2 linked regions of the Homo sapiens genome follow. The protein of the gene in region 1 purifies or fractionates together with the protein of each later gene. This does not show direct contact. Each region holds a gene or a part of one and is shown on either strand. Other genes may lie near its edges.

Evidence for each region.
Region 2: the proteins of PKIG (region 1) and RAB25 purify together in Homo sapiens (affinity purification with mass spectrometry; one large-scale study listed by BioGRID and IntAct). This does not show direct contact.

What each region holds. Positions count from the first base shown.
Region 1 is NC_000020.11:44,613,278-44,616,768, forward strand, and holds part of PKIG (cAMP-dependent protein kinase inhibitor gamma), read left to right. Parts: intron 1-1,256; 5' UTR 1,257-1,279; coding exon 1,280-1,430; intron 1,431-3,491. UniProt on the Homo sapiens protein: Extremely potent competitive inhibitor of cAMP-dependent protein kinase activity, this protein interacts with the catalytic subunit of the enzyme after the cAMP-induced dissociation of its regulatory chains.
Region 2 is NC_000001.11:156,059,935-156,063,959, reverse strand, and holds the start of RAB25 (ras-related protein Rab-25 precursor), read right to left. Parts: upstream 2,801-4,025; 5' UTR 2,560-2,800; coding exon 2,517-2,559; intron 1-2,516. UniProt on the Homo sapiens protein: The small GTPases Rab are key regulators of intracellular membrane trafficking, from the formation of transport vesicles to their fusion with membranes.

The sequences.
Region 1 (3,491 bases):
GCCTCAGCCTCCTGAGTAGCTGGAACTACAGGCGCCCGCCACCACGCCCGGCTAATTTTTTTGTATTTTTAGTAGAGATGGGATTTCACTGTGTTAGCCAGGATGGTCTTGATCTAGAACTACTAATTTCATATCTTTCCTCCCCACTCCACCTCTCTTCTGAGCTCCAGCCTCCTAGTTCCATGTACCTAGCCTACCTCTCCCCTTGGAGGGCTCACAGGCATCTCAAAGTTACCGAATAGGCCAAACAGGACTTTATGCCCTCAAATATTCCTCCTTTGTTCTTCCATATGTCAGCAAACCACACTTCTGTCCACCTACTTATTCACACCAGAAACCTAAATTACCTGTCAATCCAACACTACTTCTTGTTGGTTCGATTTCCAAGTTATATCTAGAATCCTTCCCACTGCCCCCCTCCTCCACCCACCATCTTGGCACCTGAACTTCACAGGAGCCTCCTAACTTGCCCCTTCCCAGCACTGCTGTGCCCGGCCGCCACAGTCACCTTTGAAAATGCACGGCTGCTACTTCATGGCCTTGCCTAAAGCCCCTCAGGAACCAAGTTCCAGATGTGGTCTGGCTCCTGCCTACCTCAGCAGTGTCCTTGGTGTCATTGTCCCTCTTCTGCCATGCTCCCGCCTGCTGGCTCTTTCTGTCCTTCCAAGCCCTCATGCCTCCCTCCCTCAGAGCCTTCACACATGCTGTTCCCCTCTCTGTAGTGCTCTTCCCCTCACTCTTCATCTGCATGACGCCTCGTCCTCCTTGGTTCTCAGCTAAAATGTCACTTTGTGACCCCCAGCCTTGATCAGGTCCCAGTGATCACTCCAGCACCCTGCATTCTCCCTTGAAGCCTTGAGCACCAAGGCCATGACTTAGGTACGAGGTGACTTTATGCCACCTGTAGTAGATGGTAAGCTCTGTGAGGCCAGGGACCATGGCCAGTTTGTTCATGGTGGTATCTGTGCCAGTGCCTGGCGCATGGTATTAATAAATGTGTGTACATGTTTGTCAATAATTTTATTTAAAGAAAAGTCTGAGCCCATGTTCTTTAAAATGTTGATGGTGGTTGTCTGGGTGTGGAATTATGAGTGACTTGTTTTGTTCTTTGTACTTTTCTGTGCTTTTTGCTTTGTTTTCAATAAGAGGCAATAACTGTCATTTTGACAGAAGCCACTGTGCTGGGGAACTGGAGCTGTCCTCTCTGCAGAATGCATCTGGACTTACCTCTGCCCCCTTGCCTTCTGTCCCCACAGGCCTGAGGAGCGATGCGACAGGCATGATGGAGGTCGAGTCCTCCTACTCGGACTTCATCTCCTGTGACCGGACAGGCCGTCGGAATGCGGTCCCTGACATCCAGGGAGACTCAGAGGCTGTGAGCGTGAGGAAGCTGGCTGGAGACATGGGCGAGCTGGCACTCGAGGGGGCAGGTTAGAGCCAGCAGGTCCTTGGCACTACTGCATGCCAGAGGCCCTCTGCCGGGCCCCGGGCTAGCCTCCAAGTCCTAGACTGCCCATACTTTCTTAGAGAAGAAACCACATTTAAGTCAGGCCTGCCCCATGGTCAGTGGCAGAGTCCAGCAATCTCTAGGTTGGAAGATGTTTGAGTCTCAGGCCCCAAGGACTCCTCTGGACAGGCATCCGGGACTCTTCCTGTCCCCCTGCCCCCTAGCCCAGGTCCCTCCACTTCTCGCTATCCCCACAGCTATACCTGGCTCTGGCCACTCACAGCTCTCACCTGGCTGACTTTAGCGGCCGGCTTCCCTGGGCTCCCTACACCCATCTCCGCCCTTCCTGTTCAGCTCTATGCAGCAGCCAGCAGACCCCATTTAAACCATTCTGTCCATCATGCTTCTGCCAAAAAAAAAAAATCCCCCAGTGGCTTCACTGAGTGAAGCTAAGCTTGTCACATTGCCCTGGGGCAGTCCTGCTGTAGGCCGGGCCCTGCCCAAGTCTCACCCGGTGCCACTCCTCTCCCTGACACCCTCCAGCTACATCTACCTTTGGTCTGTTTCTCAGTCAAGCCTCTCCAAGGGGCCTTCTCTGAGTGCTAGATCAGCCTTCCCCAATCACATGACCCTCATCACTCTCTGACAAGGTCTCAGGGGTCTAAATGTGAGCGCCGGGAGGGCAGAGGCCTTGCATTCTGTTTGGCACACAGCAGGTGCTTGGTAACCACAGACCGAATGACAAAAGGAAACAGCATCCACCCACCCAAGTCCTGGCTGGAACACCCCCACCCCCTCCATTCCCCCAGAGAACCCCTTGGCTCAAGTCCACAGTCAGCCTGGGAATTTCCTTGGGAAGCTTCCCTGACCCCTGCACGGCTGAGGCCTTTCCCTCCTGCTCTCACAGCGCCACAGAGGCCGTGTGTGCTTCTCACAGCACAGCCATCAGGCTGCAACTGTCTCCCCGTGGGCTGTCCGGAGGGCCACAGCCCTGCCCCTCCCTGGGTAGCCCTAGTCTTCTTGCCCCTCACTGGCCAGAAGTGAATCAAAAGTACAGAACAGAGAAGACTTTGCCGGGGCTTGGACCCAGCCCTCTCATGTTACAGATGGACAAACTGAGGCCCAGAGAAGTTGGAGGACTTGCTCTGGGCCACCCAGGGAGTTAACATAGAATCTGGCCGGCTTGAGAGAGAGCCCCCAGCACCCTGTCGACGGAACCCCACCCCAAAAGCCTTCCCTGTCCCATAATCTATTCATTCTCCTCTGTCACGTGGCCCAGGCAGAACCTCCACAGGCTCACCCTGCTCGCCTCTCCAGCATCAACTCTCATCCTCTCGCCAGCCATAGTCAAGTACTTTGATCGCTCAGAAGCCCCTGTGGGCCTTCACACGCTGCACCTCTGTTTGCTTCTCCCCTCCCTCCCCTTGCCTGGCTGGGTTCTCTTCATTCTTAGAGACCCAGGCATCTGCTCAGCTGAGAAGCCTTCCCTGACCGCAGTACCCCTCCCAGACCGGGGAGGCACCTCTTCTCCCTGCTGCCTCCATGAGCCCACTGAGCATAATGGCCCTGCTCTAGACTGAGCTTCTCCAGCACAGGCTCTGTGTCTTGTGCCCTCGGTGCCTGGTGGTGTTTGGCACATGATGGAGGTACCGAGTCAATGGCTGTTCATTGACCGACTGAATGACCAGCATGTCCAGCTGCCACACTGGGCACGCTGCCCTGGGCTCTCTCTCAAGGCTTCTGTGTCCTCACCCTCAGCTCTGGTGAGCTCTGTTCTGTCTCTCTCTCCCTCAGCAGTTGTAGCTGCTGGCCCATGTGCCCAGGCTCTCCTAACACCTGTTTTCCCTGACTCAGATTCCCTAAAGTATGGGTCCTCTGGCTACATGACATTCACCTGCCAGGGTGACTGACATTTAAAAAGGGGGCCTGAGGAAAGAACAGTGCTCACTGAAGGAAAGGAAACACTCACGGTGGCGTCCAGGCAAGAGTGACTGGCCAAGGAGCCTTCCAGGAAGCCCGCAGGGAGCAGTTCCGTTTCACAGGC
Region 2 (4,025 bases), on another chromosome or scaffold:
GAGATACTAATGGTTCATGTTTACAGTGTACTGAATGCTTACTATGTGCCAGGCAGTGTCGTTAAAAGCTTTACACATATTACCTCATTTAATCCTCATAAGAATGCCATGAATCCCATTACTATTTTACCTGTTTTTACAGACAAGGCGCTTTGGAGGTCAAATGACTTGCCCAAGATAACAGGGCTAGTGTTGTAAACACAGAGATGTGCTGGCCAGATCAGCCTTCAAGGAAGGACTTGCCCCAAGCTGCAGGGAGTGCAGGCTGCAGACAGGCTCCAGCTGTCAGCTCCTTCAGCGTCTGCCTCTGGTGCAGACAGCGGCCTCACTGGAAGTCATGCCTTTTCTGGGCAGCCTACACCCAGTGCTCAAGCAAGGTGAGGCAATCACAGAGCTCCCCGCCCTTGACCCAGGTTTGTCCAGCCTGTGTTGCTGTTTGACTTCTCCCTCTGCCCAATTATGTTTCCTCTCCCTTCCTTTCACAGGTGCTGATTTGTAAAAAAACATTGAGCTGGGCGCGGTGGCTCACGCCTGTAATACCAGCACTTTGGGAGGCCTAGGAGGGCGGATCACAAGGTCAAGAGATCGAGACCATCCTAGCCAACATGATGAAACCCTGTCTCTACTAAAAATACAAAAATTAGCTGGGTGTGGTGGTGCACACCTGTAGTCCCAGCTACTCAGGAGGCTGAGGCAGGAGAATCGCTTGAACCCAGGAGGCGGAGGTTGTAGGAAGGCGGAGATTGCAGTGAGCCAAGATCGCTCCACTGCACTCCAGCCTGGGCAACAGAGCGAGACTCCGTCTCAAAAAACAAACAAACATTGAACACCCCAACTTCTTCTCAGCGTCTGCTTCTAGGGACCCCAACCCAACCCTCAATACTTTTTTTTTTTTTTTTTTTTTTTTAGACAGAGTCTTGCTCTGTTGCCCAGGCTGGAGTGCAGTGGCACAGTCTCGGCTTACTGCAACCTCTGCTTCCTGGGTTCAAGTGATTCTCCTGTCTCAGCCTCCCGAGTAGCTGGGATTACAGGCACGTGCCACCACACCCAGATAATTTTTGAATTTTTAGTAGAGACAGGGTTTCCCCATGTTGGCCAGGCTGGTCTGGAACTCCAGACCTTAAGTGATCCCGCCGCCTCGGCCTCCCAAAGTGCTAGGATTACAGGCGTGAGCCACTGCACCCGGCTGACCAACCCGCAATACTTGTAAGTGGCAGGGCTGAGATCTGAACCCAGTCTGGCTCCTGACCACAATGTTACACTGCCCCTCAAAATAAAATATGACTTTCGGGGATTGTTATGGTATTAATGAGGTAGTGGCAGGTACATAGTAAGTGCTCAATAAATGGTAGTTCCTCATATTATTGCCCCAGACTATTGCTAACCCTTTCCTTCCTGGAAAAGATGCCAGTAGTACAGGTTCCCCAGCTCAAGGGCGGGTTCTGGAGTGAGAGTCCCAGCTCAAGGGAGGGGCCGGGCTGAGGTTGGGAGAGGCATTGGGGTAGGGTGGCTGGAGAGTCCACCCTGCCCTAAAGGAAGTATGAAGGTGGGGTTGGAAAACAGCAAAGGCACCAAACACAGGGGCTAGAAAGATACATGCATGCTTCCAGGGACAGCAAAGTTGAGCCCAGTGCCTGGTATGCAGGTCCAGTGAGTCAGCCAAGGGCCAGGCAGACGAGGCTACAACCCTAGGAGTCCTCTGGATTCTATCAGACTCTGCAGCAAATTCATGATATTTTCTGTCTTCCCTATGTATTTATTGCCCCACCCTATAATGGGATGTGTCTCTCCTTTCTCTCGTTCCCTGTACACCTGCCCAGAAAAGATGACTTTCTTCCTCTTGTTTGCTGGTTTCCCTTTCTTCTCAAGAGAGAAGTCCTGGCCGGGTGTGGTGGCTCATGCCTGTAATCCCAGCACTTTGGGAGGCCGAGGTAGGCGGATCATGAGGTCAGTTCCAGACCATCCTGGCCAATATGGTGAAACCCCGTCTCTATTAAAAATACAAAAATAAGCCGGGCGTGGTGGCAGGTGCTTGTAGTCCCAGCTACTTGGGAGGCCGAGGCAGAAGAATCGCTTGAACCCAGGAGGTGGAGGTTGCAGTGAGCTGAGATTGTACCACTGCACTCCAGCCTGGGCGACAGAGCAAGACTCCGTCTCAGAAAAAAAAATAAAAGAGGGAAGTCCTTTCTGAAGTCTGACCTCCATCTCTTGTGCTGCACTGGCTGACACCAGGGATTTGGGTTTCTATTAGGAACGGGGCAGAGGAGCCTAACTCAGCACTCTTAAGGAGGAATCAACATCATTATTTACCACAGTAGAGCATACTCAGAAGCTCCCTGACTTTTGCCCCTGCAACCAGACCCTCCCCCACTCCCTGCAGCTTTCTTTCTGAAGGAATGAGGAGCCCCAGGAGGTCTTGGTAAGAGATAAAAAAACAGGAGGGGGCCCTCTCTGGCTCTATTCAATCTCTTTCTGGGTCTCTCAGGCTTCCTCTTGCTTCAGGGAACCCAACTCACCCTTGAAGACAAAGTTATAATCTTCCTCAGTTCCATTCCCCATCTTGGCTCCGCATGGAGGGTGCAGGTGTCTTCGGGGACAGAGGCGACAAATCTGTGTGTTGGCTCAATGCCCTCAACCCTCAGCTCTCAAAAGATCTGGTCCTGCCCCTCCTCTCATTGGGGGTAAGGGGACTTCTGCAGCCAGAGGGATTGGGGGCCAACTCAAGGTTAGGCAGGGCCTAGGGAGGATCAGCTCTGGCAGGTGGGGGTGCTGTAAGGAAGCAGAGAGGACGGAAGCTGAGAACAGGAAGAGCGGGGTGGCTGGAGACCTGGGGCCCAGGTGGGTGGAGAGATGATGACGTCAGACAGGTTCGACAGGTTGGGTGTCTGCTCTCAGCCTGGGCTCCCGCAAGCGGGAGAAGCAGCTCCAGCGGGGGGGAAGCGAAAAAGGGACAGGACCTTCAGAGACAGCCCACTGAGGGCTGAGTGTGCATTGCTGGGCTTCTGGAATCTGTGGTGAGGGCCGGTCCCCCAACTAATGAGCAAGAAATAGCCCCTCAGAAACCCACTTGAGGCCAGGCGCGGTGGCTCACGCCTGTAATCCCAGCACTTTGGGAGGCTGAGGTGGGCGGATCACCTGAGGTCGGGAGTTTGAGACCAGCCTGACCAACATGGAGAAACCCCGTTTCTACTAAAAAAATACAAAATTAGCTGGGCGTGGTGGCACATGGCTGTAAACCCAGCTACTTGGGAGGCTGAGACAGGAGAATCGCTTGAACCCAGGAGGCGGAGGTTGTGGTGAGTCGAGATCGCGCCCTTGCACTCCAGCCTGGGTAACAAGAGCGAAACTCCGTCTAAAAAAAAAAAAAAAAAAAATTAGCTGGGCATGGTGGTGGGCGCCTGCAATCCCAGCTACTTGGGCGGCCAAGGTAGGAGAATTGCTTGAAGCCGGGAGGCAGAGGTTCCAGTGGGCTGAGATCGTGCCACTGCACTCCAGTCTGGGCAACAGAGACTGCTTCTCAAAAAAAAAAAAAAAAGGCCGGGTGCGGTGGCTCATACCTGTAATTCCAGCACTTTGGGAGGCCGAGGCGGGCGGATCACAAGGTCAGGAGATCGAGACCATCCTGAAGGAATGAGGAGCCCCAGGAGGTCTTGGTAAGAGATAAAAAAACAGGAGGGGGCCCTCTCTGGCTCTATGGTAGAAACGGTGAAACTGTGTCTCTACTAAAAATACAAAAAATTAGCCAGGCGTAGTGGCAGGTGCCTGTAGTCCCAGCTACTCGGGAGACTGAGGCAGGAGAATGGCGTGAACCCAGGAGGCAGAGCTTGCAGTGAGCCGAGATCGCGCCACTGCACTCCAGCCTGGGCGACAGAGCAAGACTCCGTCTCAAAAAAAAAAAGAGGCCTGGTGCGGTGGCTCCCACCTGTAATCCCAGCACTTTAGGAGGCCGAGGCCAGCGGATCACGAGGTCAGGAGTTCAAGACCAGCCTTACCAACATGGTGAAACCCTGTCTCTACTAAAAATA